Linked DNA regions of Homo sapiens. The protein of the gene in region 1 purifies or fractionates together with the protein of each later gene. This does not show direct contact. Each region holds a gene or a part of one and is shown on either strand. Other genes may lie near its edges. The genes, in order: SYNJ1 and ADAP1.

Region 1 (3,811 bases):
TTTGGGGGGAAAGAGAAGAGGGCAATTGCTCTAGGAAGATTGGAGGTCCTAGGGTGGTGGTTTTGGATGGGACAGGCTTGAGAATGCACAGTGCTAATGGAAAAGTAGAGGAGAAAGGGCTGATGGTTTGGGGGAAGGGCAAGGCAGAATAGTAGAGCAGTGTCACTGAGAAAATTAGGCTGGGTGGGGCCCATTTGTTCCATCCTCAGATACCCAAGTGACAACCATGTAATGAGACTCCAGCTTGGGGGCAGGCTGTTGAAGTAGGGGTTCCCATCTTAAGACTTCCCTCTTCTCTGTGAAGTGTTGAAGTGATCTGCAGGAGTGGGACAGCTCACAGTTTCAGGAGGGTTAAGGAGTTTTGCAGTAAAGCTCCTGAAGAGCAAAGGGTGAGGGGAAGAGCAAACCAGCAAATCATGGAATTGCCAGGCACTTTAGGCCAGAAGAGACTGAAAAGCATAATTTCAAATGTGACTGCAGTTGTCAGGACTGGGTGGTTTTCTTTAGCAGAGGCAGTCAGCAATCCAAGTGTTATCACAGAAAGATTAAACAGGGGAATCAGTGCAGGGATGGGGTTATGTCAAGCACGTGCAATGGAAGAAGAGTGAAGTAGGGTAATGTTTGAGATGAAGAACCATAGAATCTGAAGGTAGGTACAGAAGAAAGCAGAATCAGATGGAGGTAAAAGTTAGAGGGATCAAACCCTGGCTTCTGAAGAAATCAAAAGAGAAGGAGTAGCCAAGGGAGAGAACTGAAAAGCTGGGAGGCCAAAGTCAGAGTGAAGCTTTTGAGTTTATTATTTCAGAAGAGTGCAGTTCTGAGGGGTGAGGGTTAGGAGTGAAGGCGAATGTCCATAAGGATAGGACCAAGGCATTTTGCTATTGAACGAGTTGTCCACATGGACTTTGATGCCACGCAGAAAGATGGTGCGGGACCTGACTTACAGTCTTGCTCTCTGCTTAGTCCTCAGTGAGTGGGTTCAGGAAATGGAAGAATGGACGTTGGAGATGACTGTAGCAAGTGGGGGTAGAGGATGTTACATAAATTCCTGATGGCATAGCCTCAGAGCAGTAGGACTTTTTGTTCAGGGTTGGAAGACTAATGTTCTGGAATGGCAGTTAGGTTGCAAGGGTTACCTTGTGCCCACTTTCCTACCCAGAAGTAAGTGGAGATGAGGAGACCCTGGGGGAGAACCAGTGTTTACTTAATTAAAGCAAAGCGGGTCTTTGTGGGGTGAGGGTTGCAGGGAGGAGCCTTCTGGGGGAAGACTGTGTGGCTCCTGAGAGCTTGTTGACTCTGAGGCTGGACCTGGGTTAGGCAAGGGAGTGGGGCAGTTCCACAGAGCACAGTGGACAGGTTTGGAAGGAGAGCAGGAAACTTGAGTTGGCTTGCACTGGAGAAGCTGCTCTGGGGCATATTGAAAGCCCATTGGGTCACCCCAGCTCCAAGTGGTTGGTCACCTGACATCTTATTGCTCAGAGACAATAGATACCTTTACATCTTCTGAAACAAGCATTTCTACTAATTGTGGTTTTATACATGCCTTCATGCTTAATCCATGTGTGTTTGCAATGACATAATGTTCATATTTGTTTTGTGTATTTTAACTTTTTAAAACCTAAGGTGAAAAAAATCTCTGAGCAAGTTAAAATGGAGTTATCTCTGATCAAGCCTGCTTTTCCTTAGGTGATGTTGATGACTATAGTGCTGAAGTGGAGGAACTTCTTCCTCAGCATCTCCAGCCATCTTCAAGTTCCGGCCTTGGTACTTCCCCCAGCTCTTCACCCCGAACTAGTCCCTGCCAGTCACCTACAATATCAGAGGGTCCTGTACCTTCCCTTCCCATCAGACCAAGCCGAGCACCGTCAAGAACTCCTGGGCCTCCCAGTGCACAGAGTATGCATTTTATTTGAAAGTTTTGTATGGCTTCCTGTGGCCAATGTGCTTGATGTTGGAGAGTCATCGTTTAAGTTTCATACCTAGGTGATAAAGTGCACCCTGTTTTCTCCGGTACAGAATAGGAAAACTTGTAGATGATAAGCTCTCAATGGAAAGGAAACTTGCTATAACTGTCACTAGATGACAATTGTTCTTAATCTTTTTTCTATGTGGTTAGGTTTGTCTATGTCTTATAACTGATGATTTTCTATGGTATGAACCCGTTAACTATTTGAGCTTTTTCTTCTCTCTACTGGCCAGACTACAAAATGGCTTAACTCAAACAATACTTTGTGCATATCAATAGGGCCACTTAGTAAATTAGCTTTCAGCACCTGAGGCCTAGGTAAGAAGTCAGCACAGAGGTAGCATTATTGCTGCCATGGTACCAAAGGGCAGTTTAATAGTAGACTGCTTTTGTTATTCATACTGAAAATACATGCCCTTTCTTTACACCATTGTGCACATTTTATAGAACATTACACATATATATGAAGGACTGTTCCCTTCTGTCAACAGCTACTTAGAAGCTGATCTTCTTACCTCCTGTGCGCTTTTTAGGTTCTCCTATTGACGCGCAGCCAGCAACGCCGCTGCCGCAGAAAGACCCCGCCCAGCCCTTGGAGCCCAAGCGGCCGCCGCCGCCCCGCCCGGTCGCCCCTCCCACACGCCCGGCTCCCCCACAGAGACCTCCTCCGCCTTCAGGTGACAACCTTTTATTTCCATTTCTGCTAGATGTAAAATTCTTCACTCTATTTTAAAATGTTTTGCATGTTTTCCAATCTCTAGCTTCTGGATTTTACAGTTTTTTCTATCATTATTGCTATTTCTTAGCTTTTCTCTAAAGAACATGGTAGGCGCAACAGACAAGGTAGAGTGTTTGCAGAGTAGATTCCTCTAAGGTGTTTTCACAGCTGCCTTTAGCTGCCTTCTCACCAGCCAGCCAGAGAGGTTTATTTTGTTTTTGCTAATTTGATCTAGTTAGGCATGTAAACTGTTCTTAGGTAAAATTAGGTTTAATTTTTTTCAAAATCCTCATTTCTGGATGATTTATAAGCATAAAATAATTAAAATGTACTAATTTCTGTAAAAGTATAATAAAACTGGAGAGCATACGTATTAATGTACAATTGTATGTATTTGTTTAATGTTCTTTTAAATTAAATATAGTGCTGTTACTTCAATTATAAGCATATGCATTGAATAATAGTTTTTGTAGTACGTAGATAATATGTAATTCCTGCATGATACTTGATGTCATGGATACTATAGCAATCTTTGACATTTCACTTCTGTATTTAATGTCATTTCCTTTCTGCTGCCTATTTTCTTATGAACTATAAGGGGCTAGGAGTCCTGCACCCACTAGAAAGGAATTTGGAGGTAACCATTTACATTTGTTAGCATGTGTGAATCGTGGTTCATTAATGTTTTACACCTGAAAGACATTTTAGATTTGTTTGATAAAAGTCAAAATGAATGACATTCTAGTTTAAAACTAATCCACAAATAAAACTAATAAAGGCTTTCATTTCCCAGGTAGGCTGGGATTGTTCATCAGGCCTAATTTTTTTTTTAATAAATGTGGTCGATTCATTTACAAAGATTTAATACCCAAAAGTTATATTAATTTTAAAAGTCATTCAGGTACAGTAAATACAGAACATTTCCCAAGTATCTGATTAGTGATACATTTATTTTCTAGTGGAAAAGCTTTTGGATTAGCAAAGAACTGTATGATTTTCTTTTCCTTTCTTCATAAGGAAATTTTTATTCACAAAGGGTCACTTTTTGTTTGAAGTATAGTTTATTTGGTTTACATGAAAACTCACAGAGCTCAGTTGGAGTTATACATTTGACAAGTTTATTTAAT
Region 2 (3,811 bases), on another chromosome or scaffold:
GCCCACGTTAATGGGGAGACAGGCTTCATTAATCAGGGAGCCTAACAGCTGTGACAGAAAACCCCCAAATCCCAGAGGCCGGGCATGACCCCCAAATCCCAGATGTGCAGCGTGACCCCCAAATCCCAGAGGCCGGGCATGACCCCCAAATCCCAGAGGTCGGGCATGACCCCCAAATCCCAGAGGCCGGGCATGACCCCCAAATCCCAGAGGCCGGGCATGACCCCCAAATCCCAGAGGTCGGGCGTGACCCCCAAATCCCAGAGGCCGGGCGTGACCCCCAAATCCCAGAGGTCGGGCGTGACCCCCAAATCCCAGAGGCCGGGCGTGACCCCCAAATCCCAGAGGTCGGGCATGACCTCCAAATCCCAGAGGCCGGGCATGACCTCCAAATCCCAGAGGCCGGGCATGACCCCCAAATCCCAAAGGTCGGGCGTGACCCCCAAATCCCAGAGGCCGGGCGTGACCCCCAAATCCCAGAGGTCGGGCGTGACCCCCAAATCCCAGAGGCCCGGCGTGACCCCCAAATCCCAGATGTGCAGCGTGACCCCCAAATCCCAGAGGCCAGGCATGACCCCCAAATCCCAGAGGCCAGGCATGACCCCCAAATCCCAGAGGTCGGGCGTGACCCCCAAATCCCAGAGGCCGGGCGTGACCCCCAAATCCCAGAGGTCGGGCGTGACCCCCAAATCCCAGAGGTCGGGCGTGACCCCCAAATCCCAGAGGCCGGGCGTGACCCCCAAATCCCAGAGGTCGGGCGTGACCCCCAAATCCGAGGCCCGGCGTGACCCCCAAATCCCAGAGGCCGGGCATGACCCCCAAATCCGAGGTTCAGCCTGCTGGTTCTCACGCACCATCCCCGGCCGGGGGCTCACTTGGGTGCCTCTCCTCCTGGCAGTGACTCAGAGCCCAGGCCCAGCCCCAGCCCCACTGGGCCTCCGCCGCCTGGCATGGGAGTCCCCCACCAGCCAGGGGTGGGCCCCGATCAGCGTTGGGAGGGGGGCTATCCTCCGCCAGGCCTGAAGGGTGGGGTCCTCTCCACTCATGATTCCCCAAACAGGCTTGGGTCCACAGCCGCACCTGCTTGTGGGGAAGCGCCTCGATTTCCACCAGCCTCACCCAGGAGAGCCTCCACTTAAAAATAAAAGCAGTTCAGAGATGACTCATCTCCCCCAGAGAGACTGTTCTCTCTAGGGTGCCTTTCAGCCATTCCACTCCCTTGACTTATTGTGAAGGGTCGTTGGGAGCCAGAAGAAAACAGGAGAGTCACACAGCAGCCCTCTTAGCCATCGCCCCAGGGCGGGGCTGGACGCTCCCCACATTTTGCCGTTTCAGAATGAGACATTTCACACGTGCAGCAGCAGAAAGACTGCGCTGTGGCACCCACACCCTGGGCAGTGGCTCACGCCTGTCATCCCAGCACTTTGGGAGGCCGAGCAGGTGGATTACTTGAGGTCAAGAGTTCGAGGCCAGCCTGGCCAACATGATGAAACCCCATCTCCACTAAAAATACAAAAGTTAGCCGGGCATGGTGGTGCGTGCCTCGCTACTCGGGAGGCTAAGGCAGGAGAATCGCTTGAACCCGGGAGGCAGAGGTTGCAGCGAGCCGAGATCGTGCCATCATACTCCAGCCTGGGCAACAGACTATGTCTCAAAAAAAATTCTGCTCCCTCAGCCTCCCAAAGCGCTGGGATTACGGGCCTGAGCCACTGTGTCCAGCTTTGTTGGACCTTTTAAGGCAAACCAGACATCGAGACGTGGAATCCCTAGACAGGCCACATGCAGGGTGAAGCCACAGCGCCGCTGTCACACCTGCAAAGTTAGTGGCCGCCGGGCGCTGTCACCCCACGCAGGGTGCGTCGTCATCCGCGGCTACCATCCGTCCTTCGGGGGTGTGCAGCGCGTTGGGTGTGAGGCACCCCCTGCACTCAGATCCTATCTGAATTTCCCAATCTTGGCCCCATCACCCAGGAGGATTCGGGCCCACAGACTTCTCCCAGGGCAGCGGACACGAGGAAAGCAGGTGGACCCATCCTCACGAGTGCCGGGTGCCCTCCAGCCCGGGGCATGGGCTCCTGTGGGGCCGGCCTCTGCTGGAGGTTCCCGGCACCCGCGGGGCAGAGCAGGTGCATGCAGATCGGCTTCCTCAGATGCCGTGGGGTGTCTGGGGAGAGCCCCGTCTGCACCGGGCAGAGGGCGGGGGGGGAGCTGGGGTTAGGTGCCTGTGGGGCGCACGGAGCCTGGTGTACCCGGGGGTCTCCGCTGAAGCCCCCCCCACTGCATGGCCGGGGGCTCCTGACTCGAGGCTCCGTCCACCCTCCCTCCGGGGTCCCTGGGCTGAGCCTCCGTGAACGTCCGGCTTTCCCTTGCAGATCCCGACTGGGCCTCCTACACTCTGGGCGTCTTCATCTGCCTGAGCTGCTCGGGAATCCACCGGAATATCCCCCAGGTCAGCAAGGTGAAGTCCGTCCGCCTGGACGCCTGGGAGGAGGCCCAAGTGGAGGTACGGAGGGGGAGGGGCGGGGGGACCCGCGCAGTCCCCGGGTGGCCTCAGCCCGGGCCTCTGGAGCCAGAGATGCCGGGCGGCCTGGCTGTGGCCCCTGGAGCCTTGGGCTACTCTGGGGGCCTGGCTGGCTGGACCCGAGGACCCCGCCCCCTCTCCAGCGGCTCCGCCTGTGTGGCTGCTCCACCCACCCCGTGCCGGGTCCAACCTCTCTGTGAGCAGCTCCAGGTGTGTGTGGTGGGCCAGGGAGCGAAGGCGGGTCGCCGATTCCCGTGCCCTGGGAGCTCCGGAGTGCTCCCCTCAAATCCCCACACCTGGAGCACTGGGCTCAGGGTAAAAGAGACCCTGTCTCTAAGGAAACAGAATGCAGCGTCCCAGGCCGCGCGGCACGACCCAGAGTCAGGGTCGCATTTACACGGCAGTCCACGTGCACCCCGGCCCGCTGCCGTGTAGGGCACCATTACCTGTCCCCTGGGCGGCCTCTGAGGTGACACAGCCACTGCCCACCTCTCACCCATGCATCTGATGAGGCTTCACGGAGCACTTGGCATGGCCAGGCAGGGACACCAGCCACAGATGCTTCGTGGGGCCCTAGAGACGCCCCTATGGGGAGGGAGACGGGTGTGAGCCAACCAGGAAGCCCTGGCGTGCAGGGAGGGGCCACGCATGCTGGAGGCGGCAGGAAGGGCCCCGTAGGGAGACCCCGAGGGAGGTGGAGAAGGAACAAGACCCCGGCTGGGGGCTGCAGGTCGGATGGAGCGTGGGGCCTGAAGACCCGGTGGGAGGGTCACCCCAGCCCCACTCGTGGGACTTGGGGTCTGGAAGCCATTGATCTTCCTGACTGCTGTGAGTGGGACCGAAGGGCCGCATGGAGGTGAGAGTGGTGGTCTGGGGGCTGCTGTGGGGATGGGGAGGGTCGTAGAGGCTGGTGGCCTCCTGTACATGTCTCTCCCCTCTCCAGCACCATTGACCCTGGGCCCCCCCTCTCCAACACCACTGACTCTGGCACCCCCTCTCCAGGACCACTGATCCCAGCCCCTGGTTCTCCAGCACCACTGACCCCGGCTCCCGGCTCTCCAGCACCACTGACCCCAGTCCCCGGCTCTCCAGCACCACTGACCCCGGTCCCCGGCTCTGCACCACCACTGACCCCGGCCCCCGGCTCTCCAGCACCACTGACCCCGGCCCCCGGCTCTCCAGCACCACTGACCCCGGTCCCCGGCTCTGCACCACCACTGACCCCGGCCCCCGGCTCTCCAGCACCACTGACCCCGGCTCCCGGCTCTCCAGCACCACTGACCCCAGTCC

The links.
Region 2: the proteins of SYNJ1 (region 1) and ADAP1 fractionate together in Homo sapiens (co-fractionation; one large-scale study listed by BioGRID). This does not show direct contact.

Annotation. Positions count from the first base shown.
Region 1 is NC_000021.9:32,644,478-32,648,288, reverse strand, and holds part of SYNJ1 (synaptojanin-1), read left to right. Parts: intron 1-1,686; coding exon 1,687-1,896; intron 1,897-2,499; coding exon 2,500-2,643; intron 2,644-3,282; coding exon 3,283-3,321; intron 3,322-3,811. UniProt on the Homo sapiens protein: Phosphatase that acts on various phosphoinositides, including phosphatidylinositol 4-phosphate, phosphatidylinositol (4,5)-bisphosphate and phosphatidylinositol (3,4,5)-trisphosphate. Has a role in clathrin-mediated endocytosis.
Region 2 is NC_000007.14:934,067-937,877, reverse strand, and holds part of ADAP1 (arf-GAP with dual PH domain-containing protein 1), read left to right. Parts: intron 1-2,372; coding exon 2,373-2,503; intron 2,504-3,811. UniProt on the Homo sapiens protein: GTPase-activating protein for the ADP ribosylation factor family. Binds phosphatidylinositol 3,4,5-trisphosphate (PtdInsP3) and inositol 1,3,4,5-tetrakisphosphate (InsP4). Regulates the incorporation of CD63 and CD9 into multivesicular bodies.